Linked DNA regions of Homo sapiens. The protein of the gene in region 2 purifies or fractionates together with the protein of the main gene of each other region. This does not show direct contact. Each region holds a gene or a part of one and is shown on either strand. Other genes may lie near its edges.

Evidence for each region.
Region 1: the proteins of SLC35G1 (region 2) and ATP2B1 purify together in Homo sapiens (co-immunoprecipitation; 2 studies listed by BioGRID and IntAct, with this or other methods). This does not show direct contact.

Annotation. Positions count from the first base shown.
Region 1 is NC_000012.12:89,599,576-89,610,415, reverse strand, and holds part of ATP2B1 (plasma membrane calcium-transporting ATPase 1), read left to right. Parts: intron 1-372; coding exon 373-479; intron 480-6,069; coding exon 6,070-6,261; intron 6,262-6,490; coding exon 6,491-6,704; intron 6,705-7,161; coding exon 7,162-7,373; intron 7,374-8,982; coding exon 8,983-9,090; intron 9,091-10,840. UniProt on the Homo sapiens protein: Catalyzes the hydrolysis of ATP coupled with the transport of calcium from the cytoplasm to the extracellular space thereby maintaining intracellular calcium homeostasis.
Region 2 is NC_000010.11:93,894,666-93,905,505, reverse strand, and holds the end of SLC35G1 (solute carrier family 35 member G1), read right to left. Parts: intron 6,936-10,840; coding exon 6,755-6,935; intron 4,755-6,754; coding exon 4,016-4,754; 3' UTR 1,682-4,015; downstream 1-1,681. UniProt on the Homo sapiens protein: May play a role in intracellular calcium sensing and homeostasis. May act as a negative regulator of plasma membrane calcium-transporting ATPases preventing calcium efflux from the cell.

The DNA.
Region 1 (10,840 bases), on a different chromosome or scaffold from region 2:
TAGATTTTTCAGTTATTTCACAATTTCTTAATACAGAAATGTGTTCTGCTTCCCAGAATAGTAATAGATACTGAATATTAGATTGAGTCATGGATATCATCTGTTTTAATAAAATCTAAATACATTTCCTTTGATACCTTAGGTAAATTGTGTTGTTAAGTGATTATCTTAAGTGTTTAAAACAGGATATTGCTCTGAATATACCCATAGTTTCTGAAGTAGGTTCTCACCCAACATCTAAGCAATTTCCATTTTTATATTTGTTTATTTATTTTTAACCTTGAGTCTATAAAACCGACGTCAGGATATTCTTCAGAATCATCTTATTAAAGAGTAATGTTTTTATAACACAAATATTTGCTTGTATTTAAGGTATAATTGACAGCACTGTCTCAGACCAACGCCAGGTTGTAGCTGTAACTGGTGATGGTACAAATGATGGCCCAGCACTAAAGAAAGCAGATGTTGGATTTGCAATGGTAAGAATTTACTCATTCAAATATCCAAACGTAATTTACTGACTGGTTTGTTTGTTTGTTTGTTTGTTTGTTGACTAAATTACTATGGATTTTAAACACTGTCCCTCAAGATTAGTTCGAGGGATAATTAATAAGCTTAAATTGGTTTATAAGTCTAATTAGTTTATGCATTAGCTTTATTTGATGTCATGAAATCTGACTAGATTGTTTCTTTTGAGCAATTTAATAATATTGTATGTTGGCTTTGTATTCTGTTAATTTTTTAATGTCTGTCAACTCAACTGAACCTTTTAATAACCCTTTAATGCAGGACACAGGCTTAGAATAGTTGTGTGTATTTAAATTAAAAATATAATTGAAACTCTTCCATTCATCTACTCAGTTACTCTTCAGTTATTTAAAAAGTAATTGAATACCATCATTTTATATATAATCTTTTTTTATTGAAAAAAATCCTACCTACTTGTTTTCCCCAAAGTCCTCAATTTAAGTATTTTATTTTCTTTGAGTTTCATTTTATTTTTGGAAAATACTGGTTCATAATCACAATTCTCAAATCTAGAACTATCAGGAAACTGAAATTTTTAACCTAAATTTTGCAGCAGACTCATTTGATTGCAAAATTTGTTCTGAACTGATGTGAGGCTGTTATTTGTCCTACTTAGTGTGAATATTCATAGCCATTGTGGAGATTTTAATGTGATTTTTATGGGGTGCTAAGCTCTTTTGGGAAAATTGAGATATAAGGTTATGTGTCTCATTATCTTTCCAAACTATGAGAGACTGAATTCCGAATCACAGTCTGGCCCTAAGGTTTTCAGATGAGAGATTGTTTTTGTGTACAAATGTTTATTTGCATAATTTGTCCCCCTGATATTTTGCTGCTAAAATGGAAATTTAGAAGATCTACCATGGTGGCAGCCTTTCAACAGGAGTGAGAGAGATGAGGAAAGGAAATTATGGGTAAATTTCCCTCAATCAAAAGCAGGGAATCCAAAGATCCCCCGCCCTACCCCATCCCAAATTTAAATGGTTGGCAGCTGCATTGGTAGGAGCTTCTGAAGACATGTGAAGCATAGCTGAAGAGGTCTATGGAATAATTAAGTGCTCTTCCTTTTGCTGTAGGCAAACAGGCTCATTCCCTTTAGGAACATAGGATCACTCACTGCTGCTCTTGAGCATTTAGCAGGATTCTTATTGCTATTTACATTCTGACAGCTGACCAGAAAGGCAGTTATGTAAAATGAATTTTAAAATAAAAAAAGCTTTCTTCCCAAAACTTGAATGTAAGACAGATACAATGGGCTTTAAATAAATACAGGTAAATATAATCAAACAAATACACAATACAATGGCTTGTTGGTTAGTGTTTTTTAAGCTCTTCATGGTTTTAGGCCCAGTTATACCACTTTTTTTTTTTTTAAATGATAACATCAAAAGTCTAAATTTAGTTCAAAAACAGGCTGGCCATGATGGCTCACGCCTGTAATCCCAGCACTTTGGGAGGCTGAGGCGGGCGGATCACATAAGGTCAGGTGTTCAAGAACAGCCTGGCCAACATGGCAAAACCCCATCTCTACTTTAAAAAAAAACATACAAAAATTAGCTGGATGTGGTGGTCGCGCCTGTAATCCCAACTACTTGGAAGTCTGAGGCATGAGAATCACTTGAACCCAGGAGGCGCAGGCTGCAGTGAGCCAAGATGGCACCACTGCACTCCAGCCTAGGTGACAGAGCGAGACTCTGTCTGAAATAAATAAATTAATTTAGTTTAAAAACATAGAGAAACTGTAAGTGCTTGGTAGCTTGGACTTGAAACTACTCTTGTTAAAGCTTGAATTTACTTTGGTTTTGCATTTGTACAGTTAAAACTTAGACAAACGTATTGTCTTAGAGTTTTTTTTTTAGTTACAAGAAATCGCTGTTGATAATTTCTTTCTAAATGTATCTCCTATTTTCAGGCAGATATAGCATTTTAGAGCATACTTTCTTGATTTGTTGATCTATAGATAAAGTGTGTGTTCTGCTTGTACATTTGGCCCTTTGTATCCATGGATTCTGCATCCGCAGAATCAACCAACTGTGGATCGCAAATATTCGGGACAAAAAATATGGATGGTTGCATCTGTAGTGAACATGTGCAGACTTTTTCTTGTCATGATTCCCTAAATAATATAGTGTAACAATTATCTACATAGCAAGTTTTGGTCGAAGGAGAGAATCCTTGTCACATGAAATTATTCTTGCCAAAAATTAGTTAACCATGTATAGAGATACTGCTGTCATCAAAGACTGAATCTCATGGTGTAATCCAATAATCAAATACATCTATGGTAGTAAAACCTAAGGTAATTAAAATACTTTTATTTAAATTTTATTTGGATTAATGCGGGACTCCAAATATTGAGACTGTGTTCAGTATTCCAGTCCCGGAACATTAGAAGTGAAGAGTTGCTGTCTCCTAAAAATTCACAGCACATGGAAATAATTACAGGACAGTGACAAGTGTCTCAGGCAGAAGTCCTTGACTCTGCCTGTAGAGACTGGGAAGGGTTTTCTGGAAGAGGTGCCAGTTTAGCTGAGGGAAGGAGAGGAACCAAGAGGCCCTCATTCATCAGCGAATTATGTACAAGTTTTTCAATCTAACTAGAAGAGGTTGCGGTGCTGTAATGAGATACGAAGCTAGAAGAATTCACAGGGGGCCACATTAAAAAGGCCTTGAATGCCATGATAAGGAATTTTTTTTCTCTTATCCTGTAGATGAACATTTGCCAAGCCTACTTCTGATGATGTAAGTTTAGAGACACACTATGCGATATCATATGACTCCTAGAAGCTCATTTTTAAAAAGCAGTTTAACGTTTTGTGATTGAAAGTTTTCCAGACTTGTTTCATCATAGAACTAGTTTTTATTTGAATACCAATTAACACCATAGAGTTACTTTTAGAAATGTTAAGGATTTTGAGCAAGGGAATGGTGAGATTTGCATTTGTATAATATGGGTATGATGAGAATCAAGAAATCCCATTGAGTTTAAGTGTGTTAAATATATGGGACATTGGCCAGGCATGGTGGCTCACACCTGTAATCCCAGCACTTTGGGAGGCCGAGGCGGGTGGATCTCTTGAGGTCAGGAATTCAAGACCAGTCTCGCCAACATGGTATATTAAAATCCTGTCTCTACTAAAAATACAAAATAGTGGGTGTGGTGATGTGTGACTGTAATCTTAGCTACTCCGGAGGCTGAGGCAGGAGAATGGCGTGAACCCGGAAGGCAGAGCTTGCAGTGAGCTGAGATCGCACCACTGCACTCCAGCCTGGGCAACAGAGCGAGACTCTATCTCAAAAAAAAAAAAAAAAAAAGTGGGACATTAAAAGTAAAATATTCACATTGGGAGCTGGAGACTAAGATTCTAAAATAAGATTGTTTCTTCATTGAGTATTTTGAGAAAGGTTTCATCTGAACTTCATGTTTATCAAAACAATGTATGCGTAGCATTTAAAAGGTCAAGTAGTTCTATAAGACTTAATAGCAAGTTCCCTGCCACATACCAAATTTTTGGCTCCCAAAGGAAACTGTTTTAGCTGCTTCTTTTACTTAGTTATGTACCTTTATATCTCTGAATCACATAATTCTGGTGCTTTTTGATTTTTTTAATATAAGGCTTTAACTACTGACTTTCATTAATGAAGGTGAGGACTTAGTGCTTTCACAAGCATATAGACCACATTCACCGCATATACCTTCATGCTCACTACCTATCCCATCATCTGCCAGCAGAGTTATATCATAATTTAGATTTGATCAATATTCAGTCCTTACTGTGACTTACTGTGACTGTAAATGCTGTTTCAACCTGATCTGTGTGGTCTACTGTAATTACTTTTCCTTCCTTACACAGCTTTTTATGTTCCCTATAATTTGTTGTCTTTTACTTGCTTTCTTTTAATTTTTATTTGGTTTGTTTGAATTTTTTTGGCTTAGTTTTTCTATGTACTTAACTAATTCATCCCCAAATTCTCTGTTTCATACATCAGAGACCTTTAGCACTCTTACCAATTTTAGTGTCTAAGAGATACGTCTCTCAGCATCTTTCAACATGCTTTAATCTGCACTCGCTGTTTGCTAGCCTTGCTGCACAGCTGTCTTCTTGGTCTCCATACCTGAGGATTTTCTTTATTCTCCTTTGTGTTGGATCTTGTACTTCATGAATTCAGTGGCATCATCTTCTTTGGTTTATTCCCTTATCTGGTGGAGTCATCTTCTCCAGCTGCTTCCTGAGAAAGGGTTTGTCTTTGTCCATTTTGTATTGTGATAACAGAATATCTAAGACTTAATAATTCATGAACAATAAAAGTTTATTTGACTTGAGGTTCTGGAAGTGAGTAAATCCAAGAGCCAGGGTGCCAGCATCTGGTGAGGACCTTCATGCTGTGTCATGTCATGGGAGAAGGGCAAGAGAACACCGCAAGTGAGCACAAAAGCAAGAGGGGGTCAAACTCACCTTTATAATGATGTCACTCTTGATAATGAAACCACTCCCAAAATAATGATATTAATCCATACATGAGGGCAGAGCCTTCATCATATCACCTCTGAGTTTCCATGTCTGCACTTGGTTGATTAGAGATTATGTTTCCAACACATGAATTTGGGGAACACTTTCAGCTCGTGGCAAGGTTCGTGAGGTTAAGCTTTTTGATAATTTTTTAGTGAATCCTACTCCCTTCTAATTACTGCCTTGTCTCTCTGCAAAGATAACCAGTATCCTGAAGATTATTCCTTTTGCCTGTTTTTGAACTTTGTACAGAAGAGTCATACATTATGTGTTGAGTTCATCTTCTTTATTCAGCATTATGTTTGTCAGATCATTTATGTTAATATAGTTGTAGTTCACTCATTTTATTAATCCACAATTTATTAATTACCCCATTCTCCTGTTGATGACATTGTTATTAGTTTGAAGCTTCTAAATGCGTCTTCAGTAGACTTTCAAGAGATCTTCCTTTTTTTATTCCTACCTTCACCCCTACTTCCAGTGCCACGTAAATCTGCCAAGTCTGGAGCTGACAGGGGGGTTCTGTTGTTGGGGGGAAAGGGGGCTACTTCTACTTTCTCTACACTTGGATTAGGATTCAGCTTTCTTGTGTCTGCTGAGTTACTTACCATTTGGCTGTCTGCTTTCTAGCCTCTAAGGTTTTATGGGTTTTTTGTTTGTTTGTTTGTTTTTTGGTAGAATCTCCTTTTCCTCTAACTTTGTCTTCATAGAGTTTGTTTGCTTTTTATTAACAGATACCTTTTTGTGTGGCTTTTGGAAGGAACTTGGGTAATGTCTTTGTTCATTCCTCCATTTTTAACCCAACTTGAACCTTATTTTTAATACTTCATTCTTTGTTTGATTTCTGCTAAACCAGAATGTCTTTCCTAGTAATATCTTAGAATAACTCTGTTACCTTCTTTTAGTGTAAATTTAAGTAATATTTATTAGGTATAATGGTAAACTTTTTGTTTATTAAGTGTGTATTTTTTGACTATTTGAAAGTTATACTTAAAACATTTAGTCTAATTCACAAAATTTTTTTTAACAGGGTATTGCTGGAACTGATGTAGCTAAAGAAGCATCCGATATTATTCTCACAGATGACAACTTTACAAGCATTGTTAAAGCAGTTATGTGGGGACGAAATGTCTATGACAGCATCTCAAAATTCCTTCAGTTCCAACTTACTGTTAATGTAGTAGCAGTGATTGTTGCTTTTACGGGCGCCTGCATTACTCAAGTAGGTGATGACTTGTCTATCAAAACTTGTTTACTTTAAATTTAAAAAGTATATTAAATGCCTCTTAAAAAATACTTAATATTTAAGCTGAAGCTTAATATTTTAGGTTAGTTAATATAAAAATATAATCCTGTTCTGTTTCTCAAGTTTTTAAACCCTAAAGGTTTCCTGAGAATTGCTGAGCCCCTGAGTAGTTGTGAATGTCTATTAGGAAACATATCTTTTCTAGGACTCACCGCTTAAGGCTGTGCAGATGCTGTGGGTAAACCTCATAATGGATACACTCGCTTCCCTGGCTCTGGCAACGGAACCACCCACTGAGTCTCTCTTGCTTCGGAAACCTTATGGTAGAAATAAGCCTCTCATCTCACGTACAATGATGAAGAATATTTTGGGTCATGCATTCTATCAACTTGTAGTAGTCTTTACACTCTTATTTGCTGGTAAGAATTCAGTGTCTAATAAAGCTTCAGTTAATTGTTTCTTTTCCAAGCTAATCATCCAAGATGTTATAATGTTACAAATTTTCAAGAGCCTAAATTCTACTCCTGACTTCCCATTTATCTTTAATTTCTTCTTAATCAGTGAGTGCTTAGTAAATTTGGGAGGACAATAAGCTAGATAGTAGAATAAACAGGAGAATAAACAGTCCTGATGTCTTACCCTGGCTCTCCACTAATTTAGATATGTGATCCTGAGATTATCACCATAGTTTTGGGAGCTTCTGTTTCCTTGCCTATAAAACAAGAGAGTTGTACTAGATAATCCCAGGTTTCTCTAGCTCCTTCCATGCTGCCATTTCAGATCAAATAAAAGGTCTAGCTAAGTTGTAATTTGTATACCTCCTTGAAATCTAATTTGGTATGATAATTACAAAATAGTCATTTTTCATTCTTTCAGGAGAAAAGTTTTTTGACATTGATAGTGGAAGAAATGCTCCTTTGCATGCTCCTCCTTCAGAACATTATACTATTGTTTTTAATACCTTTGTGCTGATGCAACTTTTCAACGAAATAAATGCCCGGAAAATTCATGGTGAAAGAAATGTATTCGAAGGAATCTTTAACAATGCCATCTTCTGCACAATTGTTTTAGGCACTTTTGTGGTACAGGTGGGTAATTGGAAAAGATAGTTTCAAATTTGCCTGTTAAATGGGAGACATTAGGTAAACAGCTTGTTCTAGCAATCACTTGTGTGGAACATGTGTGGAACTGTTGCCTTGGTGACATATATAATATCATGGTGATTTAAGGTATATGTTAAAGAATATGGGAACTGAATCTCCTGTTCTTAGAAGTAAATGCCACAACCAACTAGACAAACAGTTTTATTTCTTCCAACTGTAAAGTGAAAGATATTATTTCTTAGGAAACAAAGTCAGCCAATCAATTAATTGTTTCCCAGCATTTTAGTATTCTTTTTACATCCCACATTATACCAAAAAAAAGATCAGGTTTAAATTTTAAAAAAAATTAAGATCACTTGTACAAATACATATTGAATTCTTCATGCTCATTATTTTCTTGATTTATAAAAGAAAATTACTTCAGTTTTATATCTCTACTAAAATCCAGACCTGATTGTCAAATCAGTTGTAATCTAATTGGGCTACTAACAAAGCAGTTGGAAATCTATCTGTACAAGTGCACAAATTAACTTAAAAAATAGTGGAACCGAGAAGTGAAAATGACTTGAATTTGAATAAAGTAGAGCTAAAAAGAAAGGAATTGTAACTTTAAGGTTTTAAAATGTTAACTACCAAAATTATTTTTGATTTTAATATTTGGGAACTAGTTAACTGCCATATCAAAGAGAGGCCTGTCAGACTCACAGGAGGGTGAATATTGTTAATTGATTCTTTTTTTAAAAAATTATTTATTTTTTAATTAAGACAGGGTCTTGCTATGTTGCCTAGGCTGGTCTTGAACTCCTGGGCTCAAGCAGTCCTCTCACCTCAGCCTCCAAAAGTGCTAGAATTACAGGTATGAGTCACCACACCCAACCCCAGTTAATTCTTAATATTTCCATGCACACTATTTTAGGCCTTTTAGAATAACAAGCAAAACATAAGCACTGTATTATGAATTTATATTCATCATCAGACCTCACTCTTTTCATAAAGGAGAGCAAATCTGAGATCACCTCACCTGAGTTAGCCCATATTTCATAGAACTTTCCAAGTTGCCTTTCTTCTCATATAGTCTGTGTTTATCTTAGTATGTCTAAATGTTAACTAGAAATAAACAGCTATGTGGAATTTTTTTAATATTGTGCATTTTTCCAGTAACATACAGTCTTTTCTACAAAAGAGTACTATATTTTGAGAAAGGCACAGATTATTTGAAGAGTTGTACTAAATACAGGGGAATGTAGTTGCTTGGGGTTATATTGGAAACAGTATAAAATTATTATTCTTGGTCATAAGAATTTTACTTTTTAGTAAGCGTAATTTAAACATGAAATACGCATGCATCAAAAATATTGGGCAGAGATTTTACTTTATTTCAGTTGTCTTTTTTTCTAAGAGGCAAAGTGGACTGGAGGGGAAAGAGGAAAGGTCTATTTCAGTTGTCTTATTTTCAGTTGTGACTAATATAATACAATTCATCAGAATAGTGGTTGTTCACCTTGTTTTAGAGGACATAAATTTGATATTTTTTTAAGTATATGAATTTTAAAATTTAAGATTTAAGTAAATTTACTCTTGATTATTCCTCCAGATAATAATTGTGCAGTTTGGTGGAAAACCTTTCAGTTGTTCAGAACTTTCAATAGAACAGTGGCTATGGTCAATATTCCTAGGAATGGGAACATTACTCTGGGGCCAGGTAAAAATTTCATCAGTTTTTGTTTAAACCTAAAGTGATTTTTTTTTTTAATTTCTAGTGTGTATTTTCTTTAACAGTTTCATTACTTGATTCTAAATGGTTAATGTGGTGAGTAAAGAGAGGGCATTCAAAGATAAGTTTTTTTAATGTCGTATTAGTTCCAGTATGTCACTTGTTCATTATGATTATGCCTGTACTATAAAATACTATCCTAACTTTTTATGTGTTTTTTTAACTTGTTTTTTAGAAGTTTTGTAGCGGTTTTTAAAAATGATGTATTTATAACTGGTTAGGATGCTAATATCTGTATCTTTTACTCTATAACCTATTTTTACATTTTCAGAAAAAAATTTTTTACAACAATGTAAAAAATACATGGCCGGGTGCGGTGGCTCACGCCTGTAATCCCAGCACTTTGGGAGGCCGAGGCGGGTGGATCACCTGAGGTAAGGAGTTAGAGACCAGCCTGGCCAACATGGTGAAACCCCGTCTCTACTAAAAGTATAAAAATTAGCTGGGCATGGTGGCAGGCGCCTGTAATCCCAGCTACTTGGGAGGCTGAGGCAGGAGAATCGCTTGAACCCAGGAGGCAGAGGTTGCAGTGAGCCAAGATCGCGCCATTGCACTCTAGCCAGGGAGAGAAGAGCGAGACTTCATCTCAAAAAAAAAAAAAAAAATACATTGTCATTTTGTTCTGTAATTTAATCCAATATGCAGCATAGGAAAAACTGACCTTAGAGAATGTTTTTATAAAAATAATGTTACCTGGAAAAAGGGGTCACAAAATGATGTTTTAGATTTGAATTGAATAGCTTTAACAGTGTATATATGAAATAAAGTGCCTGAAATAAGAGATATACCTCATATTTACTATAGGCAGCTTACTTGCAAATGCATGTCATTATTTTTTAAATGTGACAGTGATTTATGCATTGTTCATTTTAAGCCCATTACTATAAAACTAATTTATAGAAAATCTAACATTTTCATAGATGAAGGTTAATATATATTATGGCATATAATTTGCATGAGCTAATTTATTGTCATTCTGCAAATCAGTGAAACCAGACTTTCAGGTTTTCCTTAAATGTAGCCCAATCTTTACATCTTTGTGTCTCTTCTTTTTCTTAACTATGTTTCTAGATTCTGAGGTTTCTTATCTATTTTGAGTACCTCATTAATAGAGATCATCTTTTAAGTAAGACCCATACTAAGTGTACCATGGTAGAACAAGCACTGCCTTTGGTGGTCAGGAGACCTAGGTTCCTAGTCACTCCATGAGCAAGTCACTTTATGTGCCTTGAAGCCTATTTCACCTTGGTGAAATGAGGTGGGTGTACTAGAAGTTCTCCAAGCAGAATTCTGTAGCTGACTACATGCTTGTTTCTCCCTGATAAACCCAACTGCTGCCTTAGAGAATGGATGTTAACACATAAGCTAATATACGTGTATTGGTGTTTCTTGTATCCTTTGTGTTTTCTAGGGCATCTGTTTTTGTTTGGCGTCATCAATCAGTACTAATCCAATTTTAAACTGTTGCATTTTAAAAAAAATATGTAACAAAACTATTTTCAGTGTAACCTTAATGATTTTTTTAAAAATTTTATACATTTTTTCTCATTGAACTCTGACAGCATTAATGAAATGTAAACGTGTTTTGCATCTAGTAAGACCACCTGCCATTTTCATTGTATTCAAAATAAATAGGACTTTTTAAGTAAATACATATATCAGAGCATGGTTTTACAAT
Region 2 (10,840 bases):
TTCAAAGAGGCTAAACCGTGGATCCATCAATGTGGATCAGAGTCCCTGATAGGTTATCTTGCAGAATTCTAGGTGAATATGGTAGCTGTATTAGATCTGATATAAGGCACCAAACGGGGCATAAAACAGCATGCTTAGGGTAGTGTCCAGGATTCATATATCCAACCTTCACCCATATAACCAAATTCTAATGCCCATTATTGACCATGGATCCATACACACCTAGATCAGAGACCAGGGTGATATCAAGAACATCTGGCTCTCTTCCCACTAGAATGCCCTCAAGAGAGTAAATATGCTTACCGAGTGCAATACGTAAGAGGCTAAAAGAACCATGCTGAGTACACAGTGCATGGGAAACACACATAAATCAGGCCCATTCCCCAGGTCAGAGCCAAGCATAATACCCATATAAGATCAGAGCTAGGGCCAGAACTGGAAAGGTGGTAACACCTGCGCATGAAAGGACTGGTGATCCTTGGCAGCCCTATATGGGAAGATCAGCTAGGAAGTGAAAGCTGGCCAACAGCACAATTCTGTGCTAGCAGGAGGGGGCCGAATGGAGTTTGCATTCTGATAGGCATGTTCCTACGGTTCCTGGTGAGGCTGCTCGGGAGTAAGGACTCTGGTATACGCCTCATTTTGAAGAGGAGAGTGAATACTCAATTCTACAGTCTTAACCACAGTTCAATACTTAATGTTTTCATCCTTCTTAATAGTCTATAAGCCCTTCTATGGCACTCATTTGCAAGAGGGACTGGGCAAGTGAGGAAAACAGGCTCAGGTGCATTAGGTGATTTGTCCAGCTGAAAAGTGATAAAACCACACTAGACCTTCAGATCCCAATCCAGTGCTTTACCCACTCTTCCAAGATGGATTATGTGGGTAGGAGAAGCTAGAGTCCAGAAGAAACAAAAGCCTAAGCTGAGCCATTGGAGGCTAACAGGCCTTAGAGGGTAAATAAGAGAAGGTAAGGACAGGGGGGAAATGCAGAGGAAGGACTCTACTGGCAAACATGGGAGCTAGTGGTAAGACTGATCTGAGTATCCCATTTGTGTTGGGATGTAGAAATCAGGTCGGAGAAGTGGGAGTAGGGCCAGATGAAAATTTGATGTGATATGGTGTGTAATAAGGCATCACTGTGGTTTCATGAGAACTAGAGTAACAGTGAAAACAGGGCTTTAGGAACATTAAGCTGGCACTGAGACAGGAATCAGAGTGGAAGAAAGAGTCTTGAAGCAGGTAACCAGTAAACTGTTGTGGTAATTCAGGTGTAAGGTGCTAAGTCTTGGGCTAAGATGGTGGCAGTGGAAATGGTGAGGAAAGAATAAATCCACAAGACAATAAGAAGACAATAAGAAGAAAGACTCTTCAGGATTTAGTAACGGATTAGCTACAGGAACAAAAAGTACAGAGTTCAAAGCTACTTTAAGTTCTCAGGATCTAGAAGAATGAAGGTCTCACTAACACAGAAGACTAATGCCTTTATTTTGGAGAGATAAACAGATTACACTGTTCATCTGACCCTCTTGATAGTACAAGTGGGTCAGACAGTTTAAACTTTGAGATTATATCCCAGCTGAATGGCTAGAGGTCAATCTCCTACAGAAAATATATTTTGAAGCATAGGGTTGAAAGGGAAATAAGTTATATATTTGCTATAATCATAACAACCAACATATAGCTTTCTTTCATATTATTTTATTAGTACTTATAAAAACAATTTATGAAAATATTTTCCTTTTCAAGATATAGAAACTACGCTCTGCAAAATATACATACCCATAGTTGTTACAATACATATCCTTGTATACACCTTGGACATTGTGTTTAAGAATCACACCCTGTAAGGGCTAGAAGAAACATTTTCTCTAACCTCAGTTATATAGTGTGACATTCAAGTACTTAAACTACATTGTTCAAACAAAACATGTCTCTAGTGTATGGGCCTAAAGGGATTTAACTTTCTAGGTGCCACTGATTCTTTCACTGTGCAAGGTAAAGAACTGGAAGAGGGTTCCCTGAGAGTTAATTCACCTTAGGTAGCTCAAGTAGTGGTTTACTGTCCATACTTTATCATGGAACTAAGGAAGGGAGGAAGGCCATGGAAATTCAACTTGGGCAGGTCTCCTCTCTATCATCCCTATCTACGAAGCATGGCCCCTATGTGATGATTTCTGAGACCTCTAGAGTTCTCAAATGCTCCTGATTCTGTAATTATCTAAGATATTTGCAGAATGATGTTTTTGCAAGTCTAAATTCCAATACTGTAAATCAGGTGGAACAGAGATGACTCACCTACATAGACTTCATTTAGGGTTTGTCAGGTGTCAAGGCAATTGATAAAATCAGCAAGCCAAAAATTCCCCCATTGGAACTATTGGAAAAGATTCTTTCTCACTAAGGCACGAACCCCAGAAGCCAAGTTCCTCTTTGCTTTGGAAAAATTATGATGAGAGGGTAGGAAAGAGCCTATAACCTTTCAACTCTGCAGGCTTAAGATAATGACAGATGCTTCATCTGACACAGTAAGAGCTGGAAGCTATTGCAACCTCACCAATAAAGGGCTCATTACAACAAGTAACCATTTATGTATACTCCCTAAGTCCTGACTAACCTCCCAAGCTTTTCTAGATATTAAATTCTCTCTAACTGCAAAGTATTGGTCTGATGAAGTTCCAGGTGTAAAACGTGCTGTTTGAATTCATGGCGTTAGTGTCATGGTGCTGCATCATGGTATGGCACTGACATTTAACATCATGCTGATAAACTAGAATTCATAGTGATTTTATTTCAATGCAGGAAACTATGAAAGTCAATCAAACATGGATTCACAAGTCTTTACATTTAATGTATAACATAAAGCATTATTACACATAATTTCATAACTATAAAAATAAGTTTAATACATTACCATATTTTAAAAAATTACTTTAAAAACATATACTCCAAAGTCTTCTATTTCATTTAGAGAATAATGGAGGTATCTATTAGGGTGAATCATATGAAACGATGGTTTTTCTAAGTTAAAATAGTAAAATCTTGGCAATTACATATGGTTCAACCTAATAAGATCCTGAGAAAATTTTATTTGGCATCACACTATAAATTCAAGGGGAATTTATAGAAAATCACATTTCTAGTGAAGAGAAAACACTTCAGGATGGAAACGTGCACACTGGTCATGCCAAGATTTCTCTTTGTGATTTAGAGATCTGAAATCTTGGAATGTTAAGAAAAATTTAGTGCAGTTTCAAAAAAAAGTGAGGACAATTAAAATTATAGTATGCTAGCTGCAGTTGCTAATGCCACTGAAACAAAACTACTAGCCAAATTTGGCAATTTAAGTGTTTTAGAGGTGACATAATAAAAATTCCAGCATTAAAATGAAAAGGCACAAATATGAGTTACAAGTATGATAATCATTTATAAAATCCTTGAAAATAAGGCCAATTCATTTGTATTATTAACACCATTAAGCAGGCACCTATTCTAAGCTTCAACTTCATCCTCCTAAATAGAATAAGGTTGCAAATGAATTATCAACATAATACTAATTATAGCAGCATTATCAATTGTCTGGAAGGCATAGTTTATAAAGATCATGGTAGTAGAACCAAGTTTCTTAGGCTCTACACTGCTAAAAGAATATCTAAAATAGCCTCCCCACCCATATCCCATCAGTACCAAAAATACATTTTAAAAATTACATAAATATTACTAGCCATAAAATGTTTTGGTTTTTCTTCAAACAATGAGCTCTCCTCTCACCAACTTGACCCCAACAACAACAACAAAAAAAACCAAAACCAAAACCAAAGCTACCAAAAAATTGTTACACCAAACAGACTAGCTATTCTTAACTAAAGACATACTATATTCAAAAATGGTACTTTAGGCAATTTATTAAATACAACCAATGAAGAAAATGCAGATTTTCCAGATGTGTGCGTATGCTGTATGTGAATTAGGTGATGGTGTACTTGAAAAAAATATGTATTTCAGCAATGATGCTTCATTTGGAACTTTGGTACCATTTACGAATGGCCGCTCCAACATTACTGGCTACTACGCAGAGAGCACCACCCACTGTCCACCACGTTGGCACATTATTAAAGAAAATAATCTGAAAGATAAAAGCAAAGACCACATCCATTGTCTTCATTATTGCTACTGGCCCTGCTTTTTCTATTTGAAGTGCTTTTGTGATAAATATCTGACCCCCCAAACCAAAGAGCCCAATGAATATGAGAAATAGCCTGTCCAACCCACAGTAAGGCAGACTCCACTCTCCTAATACAGAGAGGATGATGACACTTTCAACGAGGCCAAGTACTACATAATACCAAATGCTCAGAAAGTAGTCCACAGATTTTCCCATTTTTCTTAGGATAACTAGAGTCGATGCAGCAAATACGGCACTTCCAATTGCTGCGAATGTTCCCTTAAGGTGGCCTGAATAGCTTTCTTCCATCCCCGAAGTGTCGGAACCAAACAAAAATGGTGGTCTCACGATAAGGATCACTCCAGTGATTGTGAACACGGTGAAAAGAGCATCCCAAGGGCTATATTTTTCCTTGAGACATATCCAAGCAAATATGGACGTAAACACTGGACTGCTAAACGTGATAACTGTGGCATCAGCGAGGGACATTGTCTGGTAAGCATAGTATATAAGCATCATGGCGGTAGAACCAAGGACTCCTCTGAGAATGAGGAAAATTCGTTGACCTTTTGGGCCTATAAACCCAGTTCTGTAAATTCAAATGAAGAAATGCATATTAAATGAAATTAATATTTGTTTTTAAATTACAATTTGTAATTAAACATTATTTTAAAAGTACTAAATATCAAAAAATGAGGGAATAGTAAATTAATTATAATATCCACAAATGAATATTATATACTTTTTAAAAATAGTATTTTCTAAGTATAGTTAATGACAGTAAAGTGTTCACAGTAAAAGCAAAACCAGTGCAAGTGAATTACATGCATAGTAAAATTATAATTCAATTAATATAGATATTTATCCCACGTATATGTATATATATGCTTGCAAAAAGGACAAAAAGGAAAATAAACTAAATGTTAATCATGTTTATATCTTAATAGATAAACTCATAGGTAATTTTCTTTCTTTATATTTATTTTCTCCAAATTTTCTATAAACATATCACTTTTATGATAAATACAATGTCAAGATTCAGCTGCCCTGTGTAAGGAAACTTAGACCCAGCTAATGCTCATTCTCAATCTCATGAATTTTTCTATAAAACTTGAAACTGCTAAAATTTATTTTAGTCATTGAATATGAGACAAGTTTTCATTGTTCTCATGAGGAAAGAGTCAAAACACACTGAAAAAGAACATGTAGTGTTTGGAAAAGTATGATTACTGCTATTCAAATTCTTTTTCAATAAATATTTACTAAGTACCCACTCTGTGTAGGTTCCTGGCTAGGTGCAACTTGCTGACGTGTGCCAGGGCTAGACTTCATTAGATTATCATCTAGGCTACCCCGGGTATCTTGGAGTTAAAATGAAAGCACGGTCACATTTGGCCCATACTTTGAGAAGCAAAGAGTCTTCCATGATAATAAAACATAAAATGGGTCAAAACAGATGAGGACCAAGGATTTTAACAACATTCTTCCAGTGTCCTTCCCCTGACAATATCTTTATTTCAAAATGGGGGAGATGATTATGTTAGCATCGGTGTTCTGCTGCTACCCTTAGAAATTTCTAAAGCCCTACCATCATTTCTTAAAATAGTGTGACTTGTCCGCATTGACAGAAATTTGCAGGTATTAGCAGGTTTTCACTTTTCCCACCAAATCATCAGGATATGGAGTGAAACTATTCTAAGTGAATCCGCACCATGTTAGAGATACAAGGAGACTTTGGTGACAAGTGACTAAAGCTTTTCATTTGGGGTGTAGCCTTTTTTGCCCAAAGAGACAAAGAGCCAGGCAGCCACCAAGGACCCAACTGGTCTCGCTCTCAGGGTTCTAAATACACTGAGGTATATGGAGGTTACAATGGTTGAAGGAGGCATAATTTTAACCCAGGGAGGGTAGGGAGTTCAACAGGGAAGGAAAAGAGGAATTGGGTTGGGAGAGAACAGAGAGGGCGGAATAGAGACAATTTTCATATACTGTTACACTCTACACAAGGCACTCCACCCTATAATAAATCTTATTTGACCCTTGGAATCACCTTGTAGGGCAGAAGTCACACAGTATCATTCCCTCTAGTTTACAAAAGAGGAAACTAAATACGAAAGTAACCTTGCTCAGGGTTACCCCATCACCTTTTGAGGAATACCTAAATATTATTACTATAATCTTCTATTTGCCCTGGTAAGAAAGCAGCCCATTCTAAAAAAACTTCTGATACTAGGATACACTATTACTTCTTTTCATTCATTTTTTTAACTTCCAAACAGTAGTTATGCCAAAGGAAAGAAGGGAGGGTGATACAAGACAAGAGGAATTATACAAAGAAAGCTCTGTTTTCAAAAGGGGAGGTGGTGAAAAACAAAATTTCTTTCTCCCCACTTTGTTGGGTATGTGGTTTATGCTCATGGTAGAATCTTCTGTGGGTAGATGCTTATGACTTTTCATTAAGCAGAGCCAAGGGGCATAGGAACTGGTAAGTATATGAGATGGATAAAGCAGATAGAGTAATTATAGGCAGGTGAAAAGATATACACACATTTATTAATATCTTCTACTTTGCAGTTAAAAAATACTTACTTTCTGTATATTAAGCAAGGGATAACAACTAGCATTTGGAACACACATCGAAACGCACTAATCTCTACAGCATGGACGTCTTGCACTTTTTTAACAAATAAAGAGCCCACTGAGAAAAGGAAGGCAGACAATAATGTGTAAAACAAGCCAAGTCCAGGACAGGGTGCTTTCTTCTTGGCTTCTGAAAAAGATTAAATTCTGGTTAGTCCTTGCTTCCAAGTGTATGTGTTATCATTTTCACTTAGAAACTGAGAAAAATGGAACAGTGTCAAAGGTCAACAGGCTTTATTACCTCCTAAGCATATCATTTCTCTGGGCCTGTACCATTTTCCCCATCAATTATGAAGAACCATAGATGAGGATAACAATTTAAACCTGCATTTTTAAAATGCCGTTTCGCCCTATCAAATGGATTTCCTATGGCTCACTGAAGAATCATCCTCACTTACAAGTCAAGAAGTAGAACGCTTGCCAAGATGGTGAGAGAAATCTTTAAGAAACACTTGTCAAGATGGCAAGTAAAAAATCCTTCCAAGTGATATCTTACGCCACACCTCACTGGCGAAATTGGCTTTATGAAGAAAGTGTTCTTTTCTGGAAAATGGGTTATAATTGGGTTATACAGTTATCTGTTGATTATTTGACTTCCTCCCACAAGTCTGTGAGCTCTTCCAGGGCTGGGATCTTGCTGTCTTGTACATGCCTGGCACATGGAAGACACTGGATAAATATTCAGTGAATGAAAGATGAGAGAACTTCAGGGAAAGACTCAAGAGTCTAACACTATCGGCAACAGCATAATCTGGGAAGGTTCTCCATTTTGTTATTTTGAACTGTTAATCAAATCTATATTTAACTTTTCATGCTTTCACGACTTATCTTCCCATTCAGAGCACAAACTCCTCAAGGGGAGGGTGTGGGTTATCTAGCCCTTTGGATCCCAAGTGCTTTGTACAGAACTGCCATCTAATCCCTACTCTTGGCTCGATCTGAACGAGGAAACCAGTGCTTTCTCCAGGGCATCAAGTATTCAGTCATTAATGACAATCTGTGTGAGCTTTAAACTTGTTTAGCCACTTACTATGTCTTAGTTTCCTACACAGGAGTAGAACCTGCTTTCAGTCTTACTCCTCTGTCATTCAGAGAGCAAAAGCAGCAGGGTGGGCAGAGAATGCCCTAAAACAAAGGTCACACACTGCGGGATATATTCTTTTTTGAAATTAACACAAAAACAGGGTTGAGGGTAAGAAGGAAACACAAGTGGCCCTCATTGATTAAGAGCACAGTGGAACTGAAGGGTGAGTGGATATGAGCAACTTGTAGGAAAACTCGTATTATCATTCCAATCTAGGACTTTATAATGTGATAGCTATAAAACAGTATTGTGTAATGTTTTTTAAAATGCCCTTCTCTGATAAATGTAAACACCAGGTAACACATTTACACATCCTCAGGTTAGTGAGATGACTTTGCAAACTGGGACCAAAGTATGCTGATGCACAGGCTTTCTGGGGCATTCTACAGCCTGGCCTTGTGGTCAAAGGCACCCTTCTCTACCTCTTCCTGTTCTAGGTGCACAGCTGAAGATACTGCTTTGGAACTAGCAGTAGTCCTTCCCTTAAGATGCCAGAATCCTCATTCTGTTCTGTATCCATGTGCTTGTATACTGCAGAAATAAACTGCACACACGCAGCCCACGAGAAGGAAGCTTTAGAAGACTTCCAAGTGAAGCACCACAAAATACATGCCTTGGCTGTGGTCAGCCTTAGGGTCTGGCCTCTGAAATTTCAGAATTCAGTTCCAAATAAAACAGTTTTTCTTAAAAGAAACTCAACCCCTACATAGAAACTCCACCCTCAAACAGAACAGACCGAGAAGATCAAGGACAGAAAACATCTCCCTGCTCTGTTTCAAGTATCTTCTCCAACATAAACTTGCTAATTTTTCCCCAGGAATATTTTAACTTAACATTAAATATTTTAACTCTTTAAAAATGTAATTGCACCCCCTTGGCCCTAGTGACCTTTCCCCTTAAAACACATACACATGTATTTTCTTGCCTATAAACACTTAAGGCTCATGCTTTCCAACTGGGAAGGGACAGACATTAGAAGGCCTCGCTGCATTTGATGATTTGTTAACGAGGGTGAGGACTGGCTCCACTCAGACAAACCTCAGTTTCTTACTAAATCATTTCAATCCTGTCAATGGAGATGAGCATGACTAGCATAACTGAAAGAGGCATTTGTTTAGGTTCCATGTTCATATCTCACTGCAAGCATATCTAATAATTTGGTAACTCAAATTATTCAAATTAGGTAAGTGGCCATGGTGTAATTTCCTCACTTAGAAGAAAACTGAAAAATTACTCAGCTTCTCTATCCTCTGCTTTCAGCTGGTGATTCGCAATCCTGGTTGGGAATTAGAATCACCTGAGTAACACTTAAAACTTTAATTCCTGGGTGCAGTGGCTCATGCCTGTAATCCCAGCACCTTGGGAGGACAAGGTGGGAGGATCTCTTGAGCTCAAAAGTTTGAGACCACCCTGGGCAACACGGGGAAACCCCCTCATCAATGCAAAAAATATTTTTAAATTAGTCGGGTGTGGTGGTGTGTGCCTGTGGTCCCAGCTACTCAGGAGACTTAGATGAAAGGATCGAGTAAGCCCAGGAGGTTGAGGTCGCCGTGAGCTGTGATCACGCCAATGCACCACAGCCTTGGTGACAGAGTAAGACCCTATCTCCAAAAAAAAAAAAAATTAATTCTCAAGCCCCATCTCAGACCCACCGAAATAGAATCTCTGTAACTCTAAAAGGCTCCACTAGTTTGAGAACCACTGCTACACTCGATCACTAACTCCCTCCAGAGGATGTGAGGCACAGGCCTAAGAAACTACTTCTCCTTGCTTCAGTGTAAGACCCACACTGTCCCTGAAGAAAGTAAGGAGATGTCTTGGGACAGCTGTATGTGTCTGTTAAGGTCATCCAAGAATGTAAGACATATGGGTAACAGTTCCAACCAGAACTTGAAAAAAGCTTTGTTGAGATAAGCAGTTAGAACAAGAGGTGTCACAAAGTTCAATGACAACAGTAAAGTGTTTTTATGTCAATTTTCTTTCCAAAATATTATCTTGTCACCTTACAATAACTAAGTCTTACTGGTAGAAACTTTCTTTGAAGTTAAACACCCACAAGATTCTTAGATACACTCACGTAAGTTTCTCATCTTGCCATGAGCTGCCTGGGAGTAGAGAATTCCTCTTCCATTCACAAAAAGGGGAAACTTTAAGAGTTTGCATGGACTGATTCGGCATGCCACCAGAAGGACATTCACCCAGAGGGTGATAGGTGAGAAACTGACCTTTTCAAAGGCTGCTTATCTGTTCAATTCAGCCTGGCATAACCCCTGTTCTAGAGGCACCAGCCCATTTATAAATGATCACAAGTCTGATCATTTCGGTTTGCCTTTAGGACAGAAATGGAGCAAGAATAGTCTTCCTAGAGTCTGTCTCTCTAACTTGGGGAAAGTGCACAAAGGGAGGAGGGGAAAGCGCAGTGAGAGGAGAGGAACAGAAATCCAGGGTCACACTTAGGGGAGGTGACCCAGAGGACAAGGTGGTGCAGGCCGTGTAACTGTCCTAAAAAGAGATCTGCCTATTCCCTTCTTCTTGCAGGAAGCTGCTCCTGGTAGATGGTCGACTTCTAAGAGGAATGTGCTTGAAGCAGCACTTGTGGCCAGTGGAAAGGGCCCTAGGCCGGTATATGGCAAGCTGGGATCCTAACCCTGGTGCTCCCTGGACATGCGCCCCATCTCACCCCCACGTTCCACATCTTGGAGGAGACAAAGCAAACGAAAACCCAAAAGCCCTCACCTTCCTGGGCCTCACTTTGCTCATGTGTCGAAGGAGGGGGACTGAACATAAAGTGTTCTTCACGAGGGGTCCCTGACTTTGGGGACGGGGCTGTGAGCTTCTTAACAAGATATGCCTTGTTCTGCATCGTTTGCTAAAAAGTCCTTGTATCCCTAAAGGTTAAAAACTAGCGGTCCCACTTATCTCTGCCTTTCCAAGATTCTAAAACTCTAGGA